2 linked regions of the Homo sapiens genome follow. The protein of the gene in region 1 interacts with the protein of each later gene in a pairwise test. Each region holds a gene or a part of one and is shown on either strand. Other genes may lie near its edges. The genes, in order: PIGF and MANBAL.

Region 1 (12,509 bases):
AAAAAAAAAAAAAAAAAAAAATCTCATAATGTTTTAAGAAAGTTTATGAATTTGTGTTGGGCCACATTCAAAGCCATCCTGGGCCACATGTGGCCTATGGGCCGTGGGTTAGAGAAGCTTACACTAATATATTTTCTATCTCTGTAGATTTGCCTAGTCTGGACATTACATACATGGTGTTTTAAGTAGAATGAGAAGTAAAGAATCACCAGATATTTGAGGAATACGTCAAATAAAATCCAGAAATGAAAACAACAAAAAAGAAACTCAGGGGAAATAGAGGCAGTATATAAAGACAGAAGATAACTTAAAAACTTACTTTTTTTTTTTAAAGTTTACCATAAAAGGTGAACAGGAGGCAGTCAAAATGCATATTCAGAGAACAAGAAAACTTTTGGGGAATAAAAATACTCAACGGAAGTAGAGACAAAACTTGAAAAGATTCCCTAGTCAAACAAAAAGGTAAAGATTGCAAAATGAATTAAAAGATAAAAGCAGAAATTAGTTCAAAATAATAGTATACCTAGCAAGAGTAAGGGAAAAATTCTTAAGTGATCTGATCAAACAAGGTCTTTAAGTAGAAGACAATTTTAAGAACCAGAATACCTGAGATTTTAGATTAAGAAGGCCCATATATTTTCAGCATAGTGGATGAAAAAACACTTTAAAAAACATTTTTGTGAAATTTTTGATAACCAGCAATAAAGAGATCATTCTAAAAGTTTTTAGAGAATGAGAGAAACATGATACCTACAGAGGACGGGAAACCAGAATGGCACTGAACTTCTCAAGTGGGAATCAGAAAACATTGGAGCAGTGCCTTCCAAATTCTGAGGCAGGGCCAGGCGCTGTGGCTCACGCCTATAATCCCAGCACTTTGGGAGGCCGAGGTGGGCAGATCATTTGAGGTCAGGAGTTCGAGACCAGCCTGGCCAACAAGGTGAAACCCCATCTCTACTAAAAATACAAAAATAGCTGGGCATGGTGGCAGGCGCCTGTAATCCCAGCTACTCGGCAGGCTGAGGCAGGAGAATCGCTTGAGCCCAGGAGGCAGACGTTGCAGTAAGCCAAGATCGTGCCACTGCACTCCAGCCTGGATGACAAAGTGAGACTTCACCTCAAAAAAAAAAACAACAAAAAACCCCCCACAAATTCTGAGGCAGAATGATTCCCAAAAATTACAGTAAAATCATTTTCAGACTTAAAACATCTCTAAGCATCTATTTTCCATGTACCCTTTCTCAGGAATCTATGGAAGGAGGTGCTGAAAAAGAAAATTCCTTTCTCAGGAATCTATTGAAAGAGGTGCTTAAAAAGAAAAGAAAAAGGAAGATAGATGGAGGAAGTCTTGGAATTTAGGAAAGAGCAGATCCAAAAGAACTGAGAGAGGCAAAGGGAATTCACAAGATGCTCGTGCAGGGACCCCACAGCACAGCAGTTTTGCAGCAGTCCTAGGTGGCTCCAAAAAGATGGAAGGAGCGGGGAGAAGAAATCAAGCATTTAGAGGTACTACTTAGCTTCTTTGGAATATGTGAAAATTACTTAATGACAGGTACGTAAGCAAACAGAGCAGGGAAAAAGAGGCAGTTCTTAACATCCATGGACAATTAAAGATTATATTTACTATGAGAAAAGAAATGTATAATTGTGGTTTACTGTGTGGTTCACTGTGATTAGCAGTTTTATAATCATCATAACGTAGACATTACTATTGATTCGGTTGAAAGGAGGAGATGTTACCATTGTAGAAGGGGCGTGAGTCAGGGAGAAATGTGTATGTGGAGGTAGGCAGCTTGTAGATAAAAGGTGCTAAATCTTCTCCCTTAGAAGAAGGCAGAAAGTAAGTTAATCTTGAAAAATCTATACTTAATTTATGTTTTTTTTTTTAATTTGAGGTAAATAGAAGAAGCAGCAAAAAGAGTTGAAAATATCTGTCTTGGAGCAGACATCAGGAGTGGGGAGGGATGGAAGAGGAGACTACTATTTTTATTATTAGTTTAATTGTACTCCTTTACTTTAAAGATGTCACATATATTATTTTGATAAATATGAAATTTTTACTTTAAAAACAAGCTACAGAGTTTTTCTATTTTTAAAAATAGGTCTCAGTTCCATTTTTTCTACATTTATTATATGTAGGATCATAAACACTTGGCTACCACAAAATAGAGGGCAACCTCTTGGATGATCATATTTTTTATTTTAATAAACATAAGATGGCCACAAGTGTGCTGGAACCGTGAAAAATGTGAAGGCATGGATTTTGCCTCTTAGCCCAAGGAACTTAGAACTTAGAGGTTAGAAAGATACATACATCAATCTTTTTTTTTTTTTTTTTGAGATGGGGTCTCGCTCTGTCGCCAGGCTGGAGTATAATGGCATCGTCTCGGCTCACGACAACCTCCGCCTCCCGGGTTCAAGCGATTCTCCGTTCTCAGCCTCCCGAGTAGCTGGGATTACAGGTGCCTGACGCTGCGCCCAGCTAATTTTTTGTATTTTTAGTAGAGATGGGGTTTCATCATGTTGGCCAGGCTGGTCTCGAACTCCTGACCTTGTGATCCGCCCGCCTCTGCGTCCTGAAGTGTTGGGATTTCAGGCGAGAGCCACCGCACCCAGCCACATAAATCTTATTGAAACATCTCTGATCGTAAAGTTGCGTTGATTGAAAACCTTCATGGTTCCTTAGTTTGATATTTAAGAATTTTCTAAAATCCTAACCCTAAATCTATCACCATGATACCATTTCACACCAATTACGATGACTGTAATAAAAAAAAGATAATGACAAGTGTCAGGAGGGTGTGGAAAAATTGGAATCCTCATACACTGCTGGTGGGAATATAAAATGGTTCAGCCATTTTGGAAGAGTCTGGTAGTTAGTTCCTCAAGTGATTAAATATAAGAGTTTCCATAGGACCTAACAATTCCACTCCTAGGTGTAATCCCAAGAGAGATGAAAACATATGCTCACACAGAAACTTGTGCATAAATGTTCATAGCAACATTATTCATAATAACCAAAAAGTAGAAGCAACCCAAATATCCATCAGCTGTTGAATAGATAAAATGTGGAATATCCCTTGAAGGGAATATGATTGAGCCATAAAAAGGAATGAAATATTGATACATGCTGCAACATGGATGAACCTTGAAAACATTATGCTAGGAAAAAGAAGCCAGTCATACATGCTTTATGATTCCATTTATATGAAATGTCCAGAATAGGCAAATCCAGAGAGACAGAAAGTAGCTTAGTGGTTGCCTAGGGCTGGGAGGAAGGAGAAATGGAGAGTGATTGGTAATGGTTAAAGAGTCTGGGGATGATGAAAATGTTCTAAAACTTACAGTGGTGATGGCTGCACGACTCTGTGAATATACTAAAAACCATTGATTTGTATACTTGAAATTAGTGAATTGTATGGCTAGAAAGGATTTTCTAGGATAATTTTTGACTCTACTCAATAAAGCTATTTTTAAAAATCCTAACTGTGGAGACCAGCCTGACCAAAATGGTGAAACCCCATCTCTACTAAAAAAAAATACAAAAAATTAGCCACCTATAATCCCAGCTATTCGGGAGGCTGAGGCAGGAGAATCCCTTGAATCCGGGAGGCGGACGTTGCAGTGAGCCCAGGTTGCGCCATTGCATTCCAGCCTAGGCAACAAGAGCGAAACTCCATCTCAAAAACAAAAACAAACAAAAAAAAAAACGGTGAGGGCCGGGCGCAGTGGCTCACACCTGTAATCCCAGCACTTTGGGAGGCTGAGGCCGGCGGATCACAAGGTCAGGAGTTCGAGACCAGCCTGGCCAACATGGTGAAACCCCATCTCTACTAAAAATACAAAAATTAGCCTGGTGTGATGGCACACACCTGTAATCCCAGCTACTCAGGAGTCTGAGACAGAAGAATGGCTTGAACCCGGGAGGTGGAGGTTGCAGTGATCCGAGATCACTCTATTACACTCCAGCCTGGGCAACAACAGCGAAACTCCGTCTCAAAAAAAAAAAAAAAATCCTAACTCTGCCCTACTTTTCCAGCCTTATTTCTCGTTCTTCCACGTGGCCTCTAGCAATCTGACTTGTGTTCTCTTGTCTGCAGTGCAGCTCTTTTCTCCAGTCCTCCAGTTTAAGACCTGATGCTACCTATTCTTTCCAATCCAGCTGAACTTCCTCCTGTTCCATAAAATAGAAAAAGTGAATTCTTCCCAACAGAAAGTAATCTCTGCTCTCAACCTCTACCACACCTTATGTTTCCAGGCACATCACTTTATGTATTACAGTATAGAGGAGGTGTGTGTTAAGTTGAAGCTTAGTCATCATTGTCAGCCACATGTAGTCAAAAATTGGCCTAGGAAATCCTTTAAATTGCTAAAATAGTACAATTCCCTTTACATTGAACTTGGCCAGTTTTTCCTTCCAACATTGGAACACATCTCTGTTCTATTGAATGCTAGTTGAAAAAGCTGACTTATATTTATAGGTGTTACATGAAATAAAAAAGAATAATAAAGCCCTACAAATAGTACAAATTTGGATATATGTGATTGGCTCCAGCCCGTTCTTAGCCCTGCTTCTCAATGGAAACAAGCTAAGGCTCTTATCTTGTGTAGTTGGGGAGTATGAGATGGAGGATGATAGAGGGATTGGTTTGTGAACTGACTTGTCATCATTTGGGACTTTTAAAATTCAGTGTACATTTTGCGTGTAATAATTGGCCTGTTTCTAGTTAAATAAATCATCTAACAAAACAAATGTTTTCCCCCATACTATCTAGAAGAGGCTACTTTTCAATAACTTCACCTTGCAATTTAAACAATTGAATATTTGGACCCCACTTAGTGCATTGCAGTGGGCTTTTACCTGACTGTAACCAGACTCCTGTTCTACATGATGAAGTGTTCACCCTATGAGGGCCAGGCTGAAACTAACACCTACTAAGAGAATGGCAGAATTAAGTCTTTCCACCTTTACACTCTCAGATGTGCACTTAGTAAATAGGAACGGTAGGCAGAATCACCAGATCTTTTGAAATACTTTGTTCTTGTTCTCTGCCTGTTTCTTGCCAAGTAAATTGAATTGGTTTATATAAATGAAGTGTGCTGTAAGAAAGACTAGTTGAGGCCGGGTGCAGTGGCTCATGCCTATAATCCCAACACTTTGGGAGGCCAAGGTGGGTGGATCACAAGGTTAGGAGTTCGAGACCAGCCTGGCCAACACAGTGAAACCCCATCTCTACTAAAAGTACAAAAATTAGCTGGGCATGGTGGCACACACCTGTAATCCCAGCTACTCAGGAGTCTGAGGCAGGAGAATCGCTTGAACCCGGGAGGCTGAGGTTGCAGTGAGCCGAGATCGCTCCATTGCACTCCAGCCTGGACACAGAGTGAGACTCCGTCTGAAAAAAAAAAAAAAAAAGAAAGACTGGTTGAATAAATGATGCACCATCCATACAATGGAATACTGTTACAGCTGTTAACAAGGAAAAACAAGCAAAACTTGGTTTATAACATGATGCATCTGAGTTTTGTTTTGAAGAAATATACATATGTACATGTGTATTTATGCAAATGTACATATATCCTTCAAAACAAAATTATGTGTGTATTTGTGCCTGTATAAAATATTTCTGGAAGAATATGTAATAATTTAGCATAATAGCAGTTGCCTGTGGGGAAAGGAACCAGGAGTTGATGATAGGGGTGGAAGACTTAGCTGTTTCTACAAATGCTCTTTAACATGGTTTGACTCCTAGTGCGTCTGTATATTACCTTTCCAATGGAAAACATTTACATCTTCTTACCAATTAACTATTAATAGTTCATGGTAAATATGTATATGTCATTTTGAGATTTTCATTTTAAATTAGCAGGAAATATATGTATACTGATAATGTGTGCTAGTGCTTGTTGGATTCTCCAGCAGCTCATGTATATACCACCAACGATGTACCAATTTGTGTTTCACAGAGTTACATCCATATGGGAGAATAGTCTCCAGATCACTACAATTTCTAGCTTTGTAGGAGCATGGCTTGGAGCACTTCCTATTCCACTGGATTGGGAAAGACCATGGCAGGTTGGTTTCAGTTACTTAAAGCAACAAAATAAATGTTTGTACAATGATAGTAAAACAGATGAAGCAAACTAGTGTGTATATGTAAATTGTTTTGTTGTTCAATTAAGTAGGGATACCACTTCTATCAGTCACTGTAATCTGGGCAGCTTCTTAATGGGGACTGTCCAGTGCCACAGGTGTCTAGGTAGCCCTGGTTTTATCTTCTAGCACTATTTTTTGCACATGTGTAGATGAATAAACAAGCTTATTTTGTGATTGTATATAGGCGGTTTGTTTATTGTTTTTAAAAAAGACAGGTTCTCACTCTCTTGCCCAGGCTGTCCTCTAATGCTTGGGCCTAAACGATCTTCCTGCTTCAGCCTCCCAAGTGGCTGGGACTACAGGTGTGTGCCACCGAGCCCAGCCAGTATAGGAATTTTTAAAAACTAGGTTAATAGCTGCAGAAATTTCCTATTTTCAACTTTGATATTTATTGCCCTTGTGGTCTTATATTCATATTTTCTGAACTTGATTGATGGCCAAATTGAATGTTCCTCTTGAAATTTTTAGAAGCAGATAGCAAGGTAATTTTTGCAGCAGCGGCCTGTGTTATCAAGAAAGCTCACAAACATCAGATTTTTCGTCTTGTATCACAATAAGATAAAGCTGATATGCTAGGTAAAGCACTGTGAGGTAAGTGCTCTTTTTATACCCATTTTACAGATGAGGAAACTGACACCTAGAGGGTATGTAACATTCCCAAGGTCACTGAACTTACAGTGATGACTGTATCTTTATCTTAATATTAATGACTTTGTAGTATGCCATTATATACTTTATAACTTATTTAACAAATTCACTATTGATCATTTAGATTATTGCCAGTATTTTGTGATAATAAACACTGCTGTGATAAAATCTTTGAATCTATAGCTTCTTGAATTTTTCTAATTAGGTTCACAGAGTAATTACTCCCAAAAAGAATTATGGTATTAAAAAATAAATGTGCTTTCTTTTTCCAACATGAAGATAATTTTTTTCTGATCACGAAGATAATGTATATTTATTTAGAAAATTAAAGCAATATTAGTAATTCTAAGGAAGAAAGTAAAAATTACTTTCCTCCCCAACCACCCAGAGGAAACCTCCATTTGCTTTTGGTGATAATTTTTGCAGCTGTCTCTCTCCATGCCTGTAACTATAATATTCATGTTGTTTTTAATCTGCTTTTTCCCCTCAGCAGTATATTATGGAGCTCATTCTATGTCAATGAAAACTTACATATATGTAATATTCGATTATTTGTGTAAAATATTGTACCAGTTTTTTATTAAAGAACATTTAGGTCATTTCCTATTTTACTATTATTATTTTATTATCAAATATGGTCATTATCATACTTATACATCTTTGCATATTTGTCCAATTTTCTCTGTAGGGTAGAGTCCTACCTAATGAATTGATGAATTAAATCTTTGATACATACCTCATTTGCCAAATGTGGGATCCAGATTGTGTGCCTTGCACATAACTGCCTACATTTAGCTCTATTCTTTGTGCTTTCAGTTAGATGTCGTGTCTCCCCGAAAGTCAAATTGTTGTTTCATGTTTAATAGGTCTGATAGGTTTGCCCTTCCCTGTTTTAACTCTTCATCACTATATTAGAGAAATCCTTGGAGGTTTGGTGTGTGTATCGTCACAGATTCCCATCTCAAGTTTTTGGTGCTAGTAAAGGTTTCTTAAGTTGACATCTTATAGAAGTCATCCATACTTGATGTCATTCAACAGAGTGTCAGTGATTTCTAAATTGGAGGACAATCAAAATCATTGAAAAGTATACACAGAAAATTGAAACTGTGTAGATTCATTGCTATCAAGTAATGCAATTAAATCTAAATAGAAAGTATTGATAAATAAAGTACTATGGGACATTAGCTTTAATGAGTTGGTAAGATATAATAATCATTTTGTATATGATGCAATACATTAGAGTGTAAAGGTTTGATATATTACACATAATTTAAGTCTTTTCTGTTTACAAGACAGTGCAGTAGTAGAAACTGAACTAAGAGGAATGAATATATGTGCTTTATAAAATATGTGTTTAGGTTTGCTTAGAAAATATATATCTTAATTATTTACAGTTCAGTCACCCATTTTGGGATTGTTCAGGCTTTTAGCTGATGACCCATTTTTCTCCCTCAGTGCTTGTTAACAATAAGGATGAACTAGATCCAAATTGATGGTATTACTTTTTAAATTAATGTAAAGTTTCCATTTGAATTACTGACTTTTTAAAAAGATTTTCTAGGTAGCTGGAAATTAATTTAATTTTAAATCTAATTTAAATACATAACAAGTGTTGGTTTCCATTAAGAGTGTTTCATTCAGCTGGAATATTACTGGCCATGTAATTATCTTTACTATTGGGTTGTTTTTAGAATATTCCAAGTTAATGACCCACGTATTCACTGTAAACCTTTTAAATTATGAAATGTATTGTTGAGGGAATGATAGAATTGATGTATAATTAAAAATCTTTTATTCATATAGCACTCATCTGCTCCTTGCCCTTTTAGCAGTTATTTACTAATAAACTAAAGAAATGAGGTTTTTTTTTCACTTTTTATTTCCAGCAAACAAGGTTGTTTGTTTTTTTGTTATTGTTATTTTTTAATAATTCTAACTCCACAGAACAGCATCTCCCAGAGAAGCAATAAATCAGATAAGGGAATATGGCATTTTCTAAAAGTGGAGATGTTGTTAGAGCAAAATTTCATGAGAAGACAATACAGTATACACTTTATTATCTAAAATAGAACATGTATTAAGAGATTCTTGTTCTGTGTTCCTTGTAGCCCAATACCGATTTGATCTGCTTGTGGTAAAGCAAGCTTTTCTGGATTGTGTTCTGGTTTTATTTATATTCCAGTCAGAGAAACAGGAATATCTGGTTAAGCAATTGTACCTTTAAAAACACACACATGCACACACACACACAAAACCCCACAAAATCTACTACATGTTTTAATTCAGTTTTCTTTACTTTGAACTCAAACCATTGTATAACATTCCTGAGGCCAAGCATAAGATTATAGTGATGTGGATTCTGTAATGAGCTGTTTCAAGCATATTTTTATGTTTAAAATAATTTCTTCATTAAATGACTGGAAAGGCCCACTGAAAATATGTGATCTCAATGTAAAAGTTTTTTAACTTAATATAAATCTTAAGTGATTTTAAATAATGGCAAGTGATGAAAGATTAGGCATCTTTATAGTTGGAGGAAGCCTTTCTTTTGTAGAAGGCAGCAAGGGGATATGGTTAAAGAGAATATGGTAGGGTAGCTACCCATTATACTGTTGGTCATCTTTGTTGTTGTTTTAATACTTTAAAGTCATCTTCTTGCCTCTACCTTATTTGCCTTAAAATCTCAGCAAGAAAACAAATATTTGAATTTCCCATAATCCAGATAGGCTTTTTCAACTTCTAGAGAAAGCTTATAGTTGCTGACAAAATAAATATTTGGACTACAGAAAACCTTTGTATTTTATAATTTGATTCTTTATCTGCTGTAACTAAATAGCTAATCAATAAGTATTTGTTGTTATTACTGTATGCATAGCATATGTTCTGTGTAAGTAAGTACAACAGATACTTAAATACACCCAGGACTGGAATTTAATTATTTAATAATTTAGATTTGAACTGTGATTTAGATTTAATATGCTGTAACTATTTCATAGAATATGTAGCTATGAGGTTTTTCATCTGGAAAATGTCTTGTCAAAACATGGCTAGTATTTCATGTTATAAAAAATTAGTGGAAGGTTAAGAAATATTGTTGGTTATTCTGAGCACAGGAAATTGACCATGAGGTTTTTAAACTCACGTTTTATTAATGGGTAGGCAGGTAACATGATGATTAGGAGTTCTGGCATCAGATTACTGGGTTGAAATCCTGGCTTTGTCACTTGCTAGTGAGGATGAAATAATAAAATCCCTCTAAAATACCTAGCTCAGCACCTGACACATGGTTATTACTTAATTAATGTTACAGGCATTTGTGACCTAGAAAAGACATAGTTTAATGACTATATTTTTAGCCTTCAAAAAATGCAAATTCCATGATTTATTTGAGTTCTCATATATTAGAGAATATGTTAATTGTCTCAGTTTGTTGTTTTATTTTTTCTGCCCAGCAGTCTTTCAGTTGGTAGAGTGGACTGTTAATTTATCTATTTCTCTGGTATTTAGTTATGCCAATTTAGGGTATTTGGATTTCACATAATTTTCAATCCTGTCTGACATTTCAGATGACAGTAGAAAGAAAACGTAGCACTTATAGATCTCTCCATGTACCCTGCAGGGGGCTTGGTACTGTGAAATGAGTAACTTAATCCTGACAACCGTAGTGCAAGGTAGGTTTTACTCCCATTTTATACACTAGAAAGTCCAAGTGTGAGAGGGGAGGAGTACACATCTTGCTTAGCATTACTCAGGTGGGAAGAGGGAGACTTAAGATTCACATGAGAGCCCCACTACACCATGATTCTTTTCATTGCTGGAAACTAAAACATAGCTTTTCTTTTTAAAAAATGGTCATAGCTTAGGTCTCTTTGGAATAGCTAAATTACTTATTATATTTCATTTCTTTCCCCACATTGTTTTCATTACATGCCTTGACCGTTGTGGTGGTGTCTGTATTTTAGGCCGTAATTTATTTGTAGGAGAATATTTAAAGCTAATATGCAATGATTTTGTCCCTAACAAATCCACACATGCCTTTAAACTATGGACTTCAGTGCTACAATCTTTAAAAATATTTGAACCAAATAATCAAGTCTCGGCTAGGATGCTTATTTCTTACGAAGGTAAAAAGGAAAATTGATATAAAGTATTTTAAATAACTGAATTTGGAGATTTTGAATTTTAGACACCTGAGATCGTCTTTGAAACAATTTAAAGTTGTTTTAAAATATTTGTACTTATTCTCAACAGACACCAGATAAATGAGGCATTGTTGTATTTAAAAATTTTTTGGGTTTTTTTTTTTCAGTTTTACCACGTTAGAAATCTAGTATTTGTGAAATATGTATATTCATTTCCTAAAGTCACAGATGCCACAGATAATTCTTTCATAAGTTGAAACTAGGAATCATAGGATTATAACTACATGAATTACTGCAAAATGCTGGAGGGAGATTAAAACTAAGATTATGGATTTGATTGATTGAAGAGCTGCAGGTTTTTACGTTAATTGGTATTTCCATTACCAAAGGGATGATACTGTGTTTTAGACCAAAATAAAATACTCATTTATATGAATATGGTTTGTATGTTTCAAGCATGAGAAAAATGTGTTAACATTGAACTGGCATGAAATGGTTTTGGATTGAAAAGGCGTGTTCATCGTAGGGTAATCATGTTGATAATGCTCTGCTAACAGGACTTTCATGTTAGAGAGAATAATGCTGGCCAAGTTAACTCGTTTGCACGAGTTGTGACCAGAACCTTTTAGTGTCATTTTGACAAGAATTCCAGACCAGGAACTACACACCCCTTCGCAAATAACTCTTCCTAAAGTAGTATTCTTAGTCACAGGAGAGTGTATACATGGATGAGTGTAGATTTTTAACTAGAGAAATGTATCCCAATGAGTAGATTCATTTGTGCATGTATTCCTGTATCAGACAATAACATTTACTTTAGGAATATCTGGAAAAACATACTGTTCAAGACCAATTTTGGAGGAGAATATAAATGATTATTTATAACCAGTAGGTCAGCAGGCTTTGAAAGATGAACTCTCTCAGTCATGCAAATGCAAATTTGTGATAAGCACAATTAACAAAACAAACATATTGAAAAGTAGCTCATGAGAGATTGAGAACTGGATTTTATCTTCCTTTTTATCTCGAGAGAGACAGTAATCCTAATGGTTGTGAGTTGTTCTAAATGTCTGTAGGTGTTCTGATTTGCAGATAGGTCAGTTTCTCCATGTTATCTGTGACAGTGTAAATCTCCCCCAAAATTATAAGTAATATTTATTATATTGGAACACATTTTTAAGAATTTATACTAAAATGTATCCAAAATTAAATAATTTAATCTTAGTTTACACCTTTAACTGCTGGGTTAAGGTAGGGGCTCCACAAATAGTTTCGAATGAATGGAGTCATTCATATGAGCCTTTAAAAATTAACACAAATGCCTACCAATGATTAGTTTAAAACCACTATCTGTACTTAAAATTTTGTTTCTTCGAATTTATGAAAAATGACAGCTAGCAGCAGGGTAACCTTCTGAGGTAAGGATACAGATGGTTAACGTAATGCCAGTATGTTGTACAGCTCCTGAATTTGCTCTTGTAACAGACATTTCACATGAAGAACAGCATGTATTAAAGATGATTGCTTTATGGCTGGGCGCGGTGGCTCACGCCTGTAATCCC
Region 2 (12,509 bases), on another chromosome or scaffold:
CAAAGTTATCGCAAAGATACTTCAGTGAGTGCCCATATAGCCCACGTTTCCCCTATTACTAATATCTGAAATGTCACAATTACTGAACCAATATTGATACATTATTATTAACTCTAATCTGTACTTTATTCACATTTCCTTAGTTTTTCCCTAATGTCCTTTTTCTGTCCTGGTATTATCCAGGGCACCCTATTACATTTAGTCATCATATCTCTTTAGGCTCATCATCTCTGTGATCGTTTCTCAGACTTCCCTTGTTTTAGATGAACTTGAGGGTTTTGAAGATAGTACTGACTGGTCAGATATTTTGCAGAAGGACCTTTAATTAGGATTTGCCTGTTTTTGACATGAGTAAGATCAGGGTAATGGGTTTTTGGGGAGGAGGACCACTGATAGGGTTCGGCTGTGTCCCCACCCAAATCTCATCTTGAATTGTAGCTCCCATAATCCCCCCATGTTGTGGGAGGGTCCTGGTGGGAGACAATTGAATCATGGGGGTGGGTCTTTCCCATGCTATTCTCCTGATAGTGAATAAGTCTCAGGAGATCTGATGGTTTTATAAAGGGCAGTTCCCCTGCACACACTCTCTTGCCTGCTGTCACATAAGACATGCCCTTGCCTCCCCTTTGCCTTTTGCCGTGATTGTGAGGCCTACCCACCCATGTGGAACCGTGAGTCCGTTAAACCTCTTTTTCTTTATTAATTACCCAGTCTCGGGTATTTCTTCAAAGTGGTATGAAAATGGACTAATCCAACCACAGAAGTAAAGTGCTATTCTCATCACATCATATCAAGGGTACATACTATCGATATGAGTTATCATTGTTGACATCTGTTAGCTTGAGCCACCTGGCTTGAGGTAGTAGTCAGGCTTTTCCAGTGTAGAGTTACTTTTCCTCCTGCACTTTCCGCACTGTACTTTTGGAGAAAGTCATTATGTACAGCACACATTTAAGGAGTGTGGAATTATGCCCCATGCTTAAAGGCAGAGTATATAATGCAAATTATTTGGAGTTCTCTGTGGGAAATTTGTCTGTTCCCCTATTTTTTGCTTACAGAGTCATATATTTGTATCGGTGTGAACTCATGGATTTGTTTTGTTTTGAGACAGGGTCTCCCGCTGTCGCCCAGGCTGGAGTGCAGTGGTGCAGTCTTGGCTCACTGCAACCTCCACCTCCCGGGTTTAAGTGATTCTCCTGCCTCAGCCTCCTGAGTAGCTGGGATTACAGGCACCTACCACCATGGCTGGCTAATTTTTGTATTTTTAGTAGAGAGAGTTTCACCATGTTGGCCAGGCTGGTCTTGAACTCTTGACCTCAGGTGATCCACCTGCCTTGGCCTCCTGATTACAGGAATCCCCTCTCCTGGGATTACAGGCGTGAGCCACCATGCCGGGCCTGAACTCATGGATGTTTATTTTATACTTTGGACCAGAATCCAGTACTACTTTATTTTGTTGCTGAAATTGTTCCTCCATTGGCCATTGGGAGCTCTTCCACTTGGCTCCTGTATCCCTTTGACATATCCCCCTCTATATGTTTTGCTTTGTTTTGTTTTGTTGAGCACTTTCTTTCTATTCCAGACTCATCTGGTATGTTTCTGCCCCAGTCCTAGAATTAGCCATTTCCCAAGGAGCCCTGGCTCCTTTTATTGGAGAATGGCCCAGAAAACAAGATCTGGGCTCTAGGTATGCTCAGTGCTTCTCAGTGTCCTTGCTTCTAGGCCTTCGCAGTGGACAGAGTAAGAGACATACGTATATATGCACAGATCTAGAAGTATTTCCATATATAACCACCTGTATCTACGTTCAGCTAAACATAACTGATGTCCAACTCTTATCCATGACTGCATGGATTGTTCTAGCTTGGCAGTCCCCAACCTTTTTGGCACCAGGGACCGGTTTCATGGAAGACAATTTTTCCACAGACCTGGGGGTGGGGATGGTTTTGGGATGATTCAAGTGCATTACATTTATTGTGCACTTTATTTCTGTTACTATTACATTGTAATATATAATGGAATGATCATACAACTCACCATAATGTAGAATCAGTGGGAGCCCTGAGCTTGTTTTCCTACAACTAGACAGTCCCGTCTGGGGGTGATGGGAGACAGTGACAGATCATCAGGCATTAGATTCTCATAAGGAGCACACAGCCTAGATCCCTCACATGCACAGTTCACAATAGGGTTCGTGTTTCTATGAGAATCTAATGCAGCCGCTGATCTGATAGGAGGTGGAACTCAGACGGTAATGTGAGTGATGGGGAGCGGCTGTAAATATAAAAGAAACTTCGCTTGCTCACCTGCTGCTCACCTCCTGCTGTGCGGCCTGGTTCCTAACAGGCCATGGACTGGTACTGGTCTGTGGCCTGGGGGTTGGGGACCTGTGTTCTAGCTTCCTTCTCTTGCTTGTCTGTAACCTCCCACTCCACCTGTGACAAACCCGACTCCCACCATTCACCATACATTTACTTAATTGTTCCATTTAGCATACATGTATGGTGGTTTTAGAATTGCTCCCCCGATCCCCTGTGGGAAACAACTTATCAGCTAGAGTACAGTGTGTACGTGCAGTTCCTTTTGCCTTCAGTCTTACAGGCTCCACTCGTTTTCAAAGTTACTTAGGTCAGCACCCTATTCCCCCACTACCCTTTCAGTGAAGTTGTTTAATACATTTGGATTCAGAATGTCACATTCTGCATTCCATCCTGGAACACCCTGACTTCATGCGTGTGTATGTTGGTGTGTTTTAAAAACTGGGTCTCACTATGTTGCCCAAGCTGGTCGCAAACTGCCGGGCTCAAGCAATCCTCCTGCCTTGGCCTCTCACAGTTCTGGGATTATGGGTGTGAGCCACTGTGATGGCCTTCCTATGTCTTTTTAAAAATATTTGCATACATTAAACTTTACTCTTTGTGCTGTCAAGATTTTTGGGTTTTGACAAATGCTTAATATTTTGTATTCCTAATTATAGTGTCATACAGGATAGTTTCCCCTTCTTCAGGGATTATTTTTAACTTCTTTCAGATTTCACCTCAGCATTCCTGTTGGCCTTCACCAAAATATATCTGTAAGCTGAGAATTTACCACCTCCACAGCTACCACCCTGGTGCAAATGTGTCTTTTGACTGTTAAAGTAGCCTCTTCACTGGTCTCCTTGCTTTCAGTCTTGTCCCCTACAGTCTGTTGTCAACAAAGCAGCCAGAGGGATCATTTTGAAATGAGTGAGACCATGTGATTTCTTTGCTAAGAACCTTCCAGTAGTTCCCTTTTCACTCAGAGACTGGCCAGAGTCCTCATAATGGCCTGCAGCTTGCTTACTTGACTGTTCTTGATCATGATGCTTATTCCTGCCTCAGGGACTTGGCCCTTGCCGTCCCTCCATCCTGGGATACTCTGGCAGATGTTTAAATGACTTCTTCCTTTGCTTTCTTCTTTCCTCTGTTGAAATGTCACCTTTGCAGAGAGGCCCTTCCCCGACCACCTCATATTAAATAGTACTATCCTCTTCTTCCTTCCTGTATGTATTGTAATACTCACCCCTGACATTGCATGTGTATGTGTGTATGTGAGTACTTCTAACTGAATGGAAACTCCGTGGCAGGGATTAGACCAGTGCCTGGCACATAGTAGATTCACAATAAATATTTGTCCAATGAATTAATGTCTTACGTCACCAGTGTCTGGCATTCAGGGGTGAACTTCGCAGTGTCCAGTAACCTCATGAAATTATTTGCCACGTTCAGTAATAATTAATTATGCACCTTTTGTTAAATTCTGATGGGGTATGAAAGTCCCCTGGTGTATAAAAACCTCTACCTGTAAGCAAGTCTGGAGCAGGACAGGGCTAGAGACCAGGATAGCAGCTCTGCCCTGACTCATCAGGAGAGTCTAGGGAAACCTCGTGGCCTCTCAGCTCCTCCTTGTCGTTAAATGATGACTCTGTTGGTTGAGGCATCTGCTCTTGCTTTCGAGGTGGGAAACAGAGGCATAGGCTTAGTCATTTACCAAATATTTATGAGTCAGGACCTGGAATAAACTCAAGATGTACCCAAGATCCTTGCTGTTCAAGAGATTACAATGGATCAAATAGAAAACAGTAGATTCCAGTGTAATATTTCTCAAACAATAAGAAATAACATTCTAAAATTTGATCCAGCACATGCATGCTCAGATGTAGATGGATGTTGAAAAAGCTTCAGGATATAATACCGGCCCTTAATGTGATACTCTTTGATATTTTCTATTGTTATTTACCTACTTAAATAAAGTGCTGGCTAATAAAAAATGCTGGTTGCAGCCCCCTAAATGGTTTTCCTGGCTCACTAATGGGCCACAGCCTGCAGTTTGAAAACGATTGACATACTGGGTAAGCGCCCTGACTCTGGGGAAGCCAGCCCCTTTGAATCTTGCCTTTGCCACTTATCAGCCAGGTTATCCCTGGGTAGGTCATATAACCTCTCCAAGCCTTGGTTTCCTCATCCTCATTAGTAATACCACCTCCCAGTGTGGTGGTGAAGTATGCGAGTTGCTGCCTGTAAAGTGCTGTTCGCAACACCTGGCCGTTCATTTGCCGACTGCTGCTGCTGCTGGAACAATGGCCAGGGAACAAAACCTGTCACAGCCAGTCGAAGGGGTGTCTCCTAGTTGAGATCTGCAGGATGAATAGGACTTGTTTGACTTTGGTCATCAGGAAAGGAAAGCCCAGAAATACTGGCAGGAGGGCTGGGAAGTAAAGCACAGAGGTGCAGAGAGAACTAGATGAGAGCCGTACGGCGCACAGTGTGTGTAGAGCAGTTTATGTTTCCAGAACCTTTTCACAACCACCCTCCTGTTACACCTGTGCTGTCCAGTAGGGAACCTTTGGCCACATGTGGCTTTTTATTGTTAATTAGTTAAATAAAATGAAAAATTCAGTTTCTCTGTAACATTTAAGTTTTCAACAGCCACATGTGGCTGGTGGCTACCATTTGGAGAACACAAATACAGAACATTTCCATCACTGCAGAAAGCTTTATTGGACAGTATGACATTATACCCTAACAAAAGTCTTGTGAAGGAAGTAGGTAGGGCATAGATTTTTCTTAGATACTTTATTGTTTCATAACATTCCAAAAAATTAAAACTCATGACTTATTCACCTTAACAGCAACTATTTATGTTTCTGTAGCATCTTTTGATCTTTAGCCCATGAAATCAGCTTATAGATGGTTCCAATCATAGTGTTTATACAATTGCTTATTTTTTTCAATTACTGTTACTTTGCAAAGACTTTCCACTGACCTGATACACAATGTTTATATTTGCCGGGTTAGTGAAGAGGGATTATGCCATGATGTACCATCACTGGGTTAACTGCTTCCTGATTGTTGGACGCCTGGGTTGCTTCCTGTTTTTCAGTATTATGAATAGTGCTGCCATGAACTTTTTTGTACCTGAAGGCTTTTTCTTCTTTTGAATTGTTTCCTTACTATAAATTCTAGGAAGTAAGTTATTCAGTCAAAGGATATAATCACTTTTATGGCTCTTGTTATATTTTGTCTAATTGCCATTTTTTAAAAAAAGGCCTAAATGTATTATAGGTATCATTGTTGCTTGGCTCATGAGAACATCCCGTCTCCAGAGGTCAAGAGATTATTAGCCCAAAGTGTAGCTACTTGCAGATAGAGCAGGGGCTTTTGTCCTCTGCTTCCCAACTCTTGCCCTATCTTTCTATTGTACCACTCCAAATATTTCTTATCACAATGTTGCTGTTAGTAGTAACACTAGTAAATCTGAGTATTTATAAGCTCATAAAGCTTGTTACAGCCTTAAGCAAAAAGCTTGGGGCCAAGGGCGTTTTAAAAAATGCACACTTTATGAGGTGCAACTGCGGAGAAATGAGGACGCGTTCTTAAGCTTTGGTATTCACATGGTGGTGGTGCTGGTAGAGGCTGTTACATTTCTTCCAGTGAAGCTGTTCTTGCAGCCGCCTTGGAATTCACTTCAGGGCCAGTTTATGAGCCACCCCAAGTAATCTGCTTGGAGTCTGAGCATCATACCTTGTATTTGACCAAAAATGGTATTCCTGAGCTCAGTGCCACCTGATTCACTGCACTTGGAACCAGATGATGTTGGGCTCTTTCCAGAAGTCAAATCCTTCCTGGGAGGATGAAGATCTGCCAGCTCTGAGGATTCTGGCTGGGAAGAAAAAGAGCCTCAAGCTTTGAAGGCCATTCCCATGGTAGACAGAGCTGATGTGAAAAGTGGCCATCCTGTTGCCCCAGGCACATGACCTTCTGAAGTGACCAGGCTGAAAGGGAAGCAATACTCGTGTGTAAGTCCGGCTCTGTTTACTTACGAAGGTTGTTTTTATTATTCTTCGGTTACTTCATGTTGGAAACATGGTGCAAAGCAGTGAAGCAGCAGAGCCAAGGTGGCGGCAGGCCTTTTTTTTTTTTTGAGATGGAGTTTCACTCTTGTTGCCCAGGCTGGAGTGCAGTGGCGTGATCTCGGCCCACTGCAACCTCCGTCTCCCGAGTTCAAGCGATTCTCTTGCCTCAGCCTCCCAAGTAGCTGGGATTACAGGCACCTGCCACCATGTCCGGCTAATTTTTTTGTATTTTTATTAGAGACGGGGTTTCTCCATGTTGGTCAGGCTGGTCTCAAACTCCTGACCTCAGGTGATCTGCCCACCTCAGCCTCCCAAAGTGCTGGGATTACAGGCGTGAGCCACTGCGCCCTGTGAGGCAGGTCTTTAGGATTGTCTCTACCCCAGGGCTTCCCCACAGAAATATAATACAGACTATGTATAATTTTACATTTTCCAGTAGCCACATTTAAAAAGCAAAAAGGGATGATGCCTGTAATCTCAACACTTTGGGAGGCTGAGGCAGGAGGATCACTTGAGCATAAGAGTTTGAGGCTACAGTGAGTTATGTTTGTGCCATTGTACTCCAGCCTGGGTGACAGAGTGAGACCCTGTCTCTAAATAAATAAATAAATAAATGGGTAAAAAGAAACAGATTTTTAAAAAATTGTGACAAAATATATGTAACAAATTTACCATTTTAACCATTGTTAAGTTTACAATTCAGTGGTATTTGCAGTGTTGTATAACCGTCATCACTGTCTATTTCTAGAACTTTTTCATCTTTGCAAACTGAAACTCTGTACCCAGTAAACAATATCTCCCCATTTCCCTTCCCTCCAGCCCTTGGTAACCTCAATTCTACTTTCTGTCTCTGAATTTGCCTATTCCAGGTACCTCATATAAGGGGACTCATACAATATTTGTCCTTTTGTGTCTAGCTTATTTCATATATATTTATTCAAAGCTCATAATGTTTTCAAGGTTCATTCATGTTGTAGCATGTATCAGAATTTCATTTCCTTTATGGCTGAGTAATACTCCATTGTATGTATATACTACGTTTTGCTTATCCATTCATCTGTTTATGGACTCTTAGTTGTTTCCATCTTTTGGCTATTGTGAATAATGCTGCTATGAACATTAGTATCTTGAGTCCTTGCTTTCAATTCAATTTTTTTTTTTTTTTAAACAGGATCTCTCACCCCGTCACTCAGGGTGGCGCAATCACGACTCATTGGCTCACTGCAGCCTAGACCTCCCAGCTGGAGCAATTCTCCTGCCTCAGCCTTCTGAGTAGCTGGGACTACAGGTGTGTACCACCATGTCCGGCTAATTTTTAAATTTTTTATAGCAACAGGGTCCCACTCTGTTGCCCAGGCTGGTTTCAAACTCCTGGGTTCAAGTGATGCTTCTGCCTTGGCCTGTCAAAGTGTTGGGCTTACACTTTGGGCGTAACCCACCATGCCCAGCCAATTATTTTTTACGTGTATTTTTTGGTGGCAGGGTGGGGTGGGGGCAGGGTCGGGTGGGGGCAGGGTCTCGCTCTGTCACCCAGGCTGGAGTGCAGTGGCGTGATCGTGGCTCACTGCCTTAAGCTCCTGGGCTCAAGTGATCCTCCCACCTCAGCCTCTCGAGTAGCTGGGAATACAGGAGTGAGCCACCACTCCTGCCTAATTTATTATTTTTTTTGTAGAGATGGGGTCTCGCTGTGTTGTCCAGGCTGGTCTCAAACTCCTGAGCTCAAGTGATCTGCCCACCGTGGCCTCCCAAAGTGCTGAGATTATAGGCGTGAGCCACTGCAATCGTTTCAGCATGTAATCAATATGAAAACATTATGAATGAGATAGATTACATTCTTATTTTCATACTAGGTCTTTGAAAATGGGTGTGTAATTAGCATCTCAATTCAAACTAGCTGCGTTTCAAGTCTTAATAGTCATGTGTGGCTCATGGCCACCATATTGGATAGCTCAGACTTAGCAAAATATTGCATTGTGGCACAGATCTCTGGAAACACAAAGGGTTTTAGATTCAAGTGGGCCTGGTTCCAAAGTAAATTTGCCCCTTTATCATTGGGATGGGCAGAAGAAAGCCACTGATGGGTGCTGTGGTAAAGGGGGAGCAGTTCAGTCATGCCAGGGGAAGAGGAGGGTGACAGGAGAGGCATGTTGGGGAGATGACACTTGAGCTCAGCCTTAGAGGCAGAGTGGGGGCTTTGTCAAGCAGTCACAGTGGGAAAGGACATTCTTTGCAGAGTATGCAGCTTGGGCAGAGGCCCAGGATTTTGAAAGAGCCCAGTGCTCTTGGAGAACCACAGCAGTTCTTTCAGCTTGACTAGGATATTAGGAGTGGGGGCCCTGCTGAGAGGAGAGGCTGGAGAGCTGGGCTGAGGCTGGACCTTGCACCACTGGCCACCACTGCCCCTGTCATTCACGCCATCAGCAGCTCTTGTCTGGCTTATTGGCAGGGGCCTCCTCCTGGCTCTCCCTGTGTCCACTTTGCCTCTCCCCTTGTTGTCCCTCCTCCATTTAAAAATGGAAGTCAGATCATGTCACTTTTCTGCTCAAAACCCTTCAGTGGCTTTACATTTTACTCAATCAAATTGGAGGTATCAGGGTCCGCCCCCACTCCTCTCTGATCATACCTCCTTCCACCCTCCCTCCTGATCACTTCTCTGCCTGTACTGGCCTCATTTCCCCACCCTGGGGCCTCCACACTTGCTTTTTTCCCTGCCTGGAACGTGTTTCCCTCAGATACACAAATGGCTCCCTCTCTCACTTCTTATCTCTTCCACTCCATTCCCGTCTCTGTTCTTCAGAGAGAGCCTTCTCATCACAAAATAAAATGATGCCCTTAAGTTTTTTCCAAAATGCTTATCACTACCTGGCATATCACATCTCGACGTGTTCATTGTCTGCTTCCATCCTGAGCATGTAGAGGCTCCAAGAAAGCAGGGGTTTGTCTGTTTTGCTCATTCTTCAGTGCTTGGTATTCAAGAAATATTTGTTGAATGGATGACTACATGAATAAATAAACAACAAAACCTGAAACGTAGCAGCCTTTAGTAAATGTATGTTGATTTGAGATTTTTGTTGAAGTGCTTCCCTTTGCATTTATTTATTTTTCTCAACTTTATGTTTGGAAAACATCAGATACACAGAAAAGTTGAAAGAATGGTTCATTGACTGACCATATGTTCCCAACTTAGATTCAAGAGTTGTTAACATTTCACAATTCCTGTATATATTCTTGGGTGTGTGTGTGTGTGTTCAAGTTAAAAGTCAGTTACAGGCTGGGTGAGGTGGCTCACACCTGCAATCCCAGCACTTTGGGAGGCTGAGGCGGGCAGATCACCTGAGGTCAGGAGTTCAAGACCAGCGTGGCCAACGTGGTGAAACCCTGTCTCTACTAAAAATACAAAAATCATCCAGGTGTGTTGGCCCACACCTGTAATCCCAGCTACTCGGGAGGCCAAGGCAAGAGAATCACTTGAACCCAGGAGGCCGAAGTTGCAGTGATCATGCCATTGCACTCCAGCCTGGGCGACAGAGTGAGACTCCATCTCATAAATAAATAAATAAATAAATAAATAAATGTCAGTTACAGAAATATGACACTGACCCTTTGCATTTACAAGTTGGTTCTAAAGAGTGGTGAGTCAGAAGAGACGTCAGGCAGCAAGCGACTTGGGCCATGGCCTCTGACCTAGACTTCTCACCTCCGGAGGTGCCCGAGCCCACTTTCCTGGAGAACCTGCTACGGTACGGACTCTTCCTGGGAGCCATCTTCCAGCTCATCTGTGTGCTGGCCATCATCGTACCCATTCCCAAGTCCCACGAGGCGGTGAGTTTTTCCCTGGGAGCCTCAGCTCCTCTGAGTGCCAGGCTGGGTTCTGAGTACTAACAGTAGGTGCCACCACAACTGAGATCAGCAGGGTCTACATTGGGCCTTTTTGATTTAGTGTGCCTCTGAATTTCCACCTGGTGGGTTGAACCACATAGCTAATACTTTATTTGTTCATGTACCCATTAAGGAGATTTTTATTTAGTGCCTACTACATTTCAGACTCTGCTGAAGATGTAGTGTCTGCACCTGAGGAGCATCTAGTCCTTGGGAGGAAGGCAGATAACAAAAACATACCTCCATGTGCTCCCATGAGAAGTACAGAGTCCAGTGAGGCTATATAACAAGGGGGAGAGAGACCTGATCTTACCCTGGGCTGTGGGCCCTGCCGAGGAGGCAGTGTTTGAGCTGAGACTGAAGGAATGAGCAGGCTTCTGCCAGGTGAAAGTGGGCAAGGGGCGAGGACAACATTCCAGGGAGAGGGCACTGCACGTGCAAGGGACTCAATAAAGGAAGGGGCTAATTCAAGGAACTGAATGAAGGTGACTGTGGCCAGAGCACAGAGGGGGCATGATGAGTGGTGCAGCCAGAGGTGTGGGCAGGGGCCAGAGGGTTTTAAGTGTGAGAATGACATGGTCAAATTGGCTTTTTTGTTGTTGTTTTGACTCTTCTTCTGTAAGTATCTTTATAACTATACACCCTCCTTCTACCCACTTTCTTGCCCACTCCCATTTGCTCGTGACATTGATTTATTGGAGAAAGCAGGTCGTTTGTCATGTGGGATACCTACATCCCAGGAATTGGCTATTGCTTCTCTGTGGTGTCATTTAACGTGTTTCTCTGTTCCCTGTGTTTCCTGTCAACAGGAGTTCCATGTAGAGGCCTGATTCCATTCCAGTCAGGTTATTGGGTACGAATACCTCAGAGCTGGTGCTATGTACTCCCTACTGTGTGGCATCAACAAGCAGGTGGTGTCTGGCTGCTGCACATTTAGAGATTCTTGGATTGATCGGTGGGTTTAGGTGGTATCAGCTGATCCCTCCATTATAAAAATCCGGTCAGTCTTTCACCTAAGCGGTTTTAGCATCCATTGATGGTCGTTGCTTAGATCCATTATTTCCTTCTGCATCTGTTAGCTGGAATTCTTTAACAAAGACCTTTTCCTTATCACTTGTATGATTACTCTGAATTGCTCTTCATAATGAAAAGCAGGAAAAATGCTTGGTTCTTTCCCTTTATTTATCAATTTTCAAAGTTGTGAGTTCAGACTCTAGCAACTTCCAATGATGACCAATGAAGCTTTGGTTTTCATAGCATTCTGAACATATTTTTAATATATTTAATATGTTTTAGTTTTTTTTTTTTGAGGGCACTTATCTGCCATTAATTTGTTTTTTATGTTCAGTGGGAGCCCCTTTAAGTTGATGTCTTTGTTCTTTGTCATACTTCATTAGTCTTTGATAGCTTCCTTGCTTCATGGTTCAATAAGATGTCACAGGCTCTTTTTTGTGTGTGTGCGAGACAGGGTCTTGTCTGTTGCCCAGGCTGGAGTGCAGTGGCACAATCACAGCTCACTGCAATCTCTGTCTCCCAAGTTCAAGCAATTCTCCTGCTTCAGCCTCCCAAGTAGCTGGGACTACAGGTGTGCCACCATGGCTGGCTAATTTTTGTATTTTTAGTAGAGACACGGTTTTGCCATGTTGCCCAGGCTGGTCACAAACTCTTGGGCTCAAGCCATCCACTTGCCTTGAGCTCCCAAAGTGCTGGAATTATAGGCATGAGCCACTGCGCCTGGCCCCAGGCTCATTTTGTACATTTCCTGCCCCAGTCTTGGAATCAGTCATTTCTCTAAAATGCTCTGGTTCTTTTTAGCTAGAAAATAGTATCTAGAGGCTACAGTTGGGACATTAGAAGTTTTCAGTGCTACTGAGCTGTGATTGCATCTAGGCCTTTCAATAAACAGAAATAGAAAATAAACATTTTTTAAGAAATGAAAAAGTTGTGAGTTCATACTGGTATTTCCAATTCAAATGTAAGGTGATAGTGTTTCTATTTATTTGATTTTATACTAGTGTCTTGTAACTCTTTATCTTATGCTGGAAATCTTGTTCTCAATAACATTAACAAAATGATGTATCTGCTAGATCCTACTGAATCTGAGGTCCCCAGGACCACCCCAGGTTCAGTGATGCACTAGGACTCTCAGCTGTGGCAGTGAAAGGATACCAGGTATGGCGGCACAGGGAAAAGGTACATGGGGCAGAGACTGGAGGAAACAGGCGCAGGCGTCTGAGTGCTCTCCCATTGGATA

What was found.
Region 2: the proteins of PIGF (region 1) and MANBAL interact in binary tests that used the Homo sapiens proteins (3 or more experiments, as listed by UniProt).

The regions. Positions count from the first base shown.
Region 1 is NC_000002.12:46,586,042-46,598,550, reverse strand, and holds part of PIGF (GPI ethanolamine phosphate transferase, stabilizing subunit), read left to right. Parts: intron 1-2,314; exon of another isoform or gene 2,315-5,193; intron 5,194-5,967; coding exon 5,968-6,076; intron 6,077-6,625; coding exon of another isoform or gene 6,626-6,643; exon of another isoform or gene 6,644-7,404; intron 7,405-10,371; coding exon of another isoform or gene 10,372-10,476; intron 10,477-12,509.
Region 2 is NC_000020.11:37,291,216-37,303,724, forward strand, and holds part of MANBAL (protein MANBAL), read left to right. Parts: intron 1-6,080; exon of another isoform or gene 6,081-6,319; intron 6,320-7,547; exon of another isoform or gene 7,548-7,664; intron 7,665-9,955; exon of another isoform or gene 9,956-9,992; 5' UTR 9,993-10,048; coding exon 10,049-10,198; intron 10,199-11,064; coding exon of another isoform or gene 11,065-11,085; exon of another isoform or gene 11,086-12,509.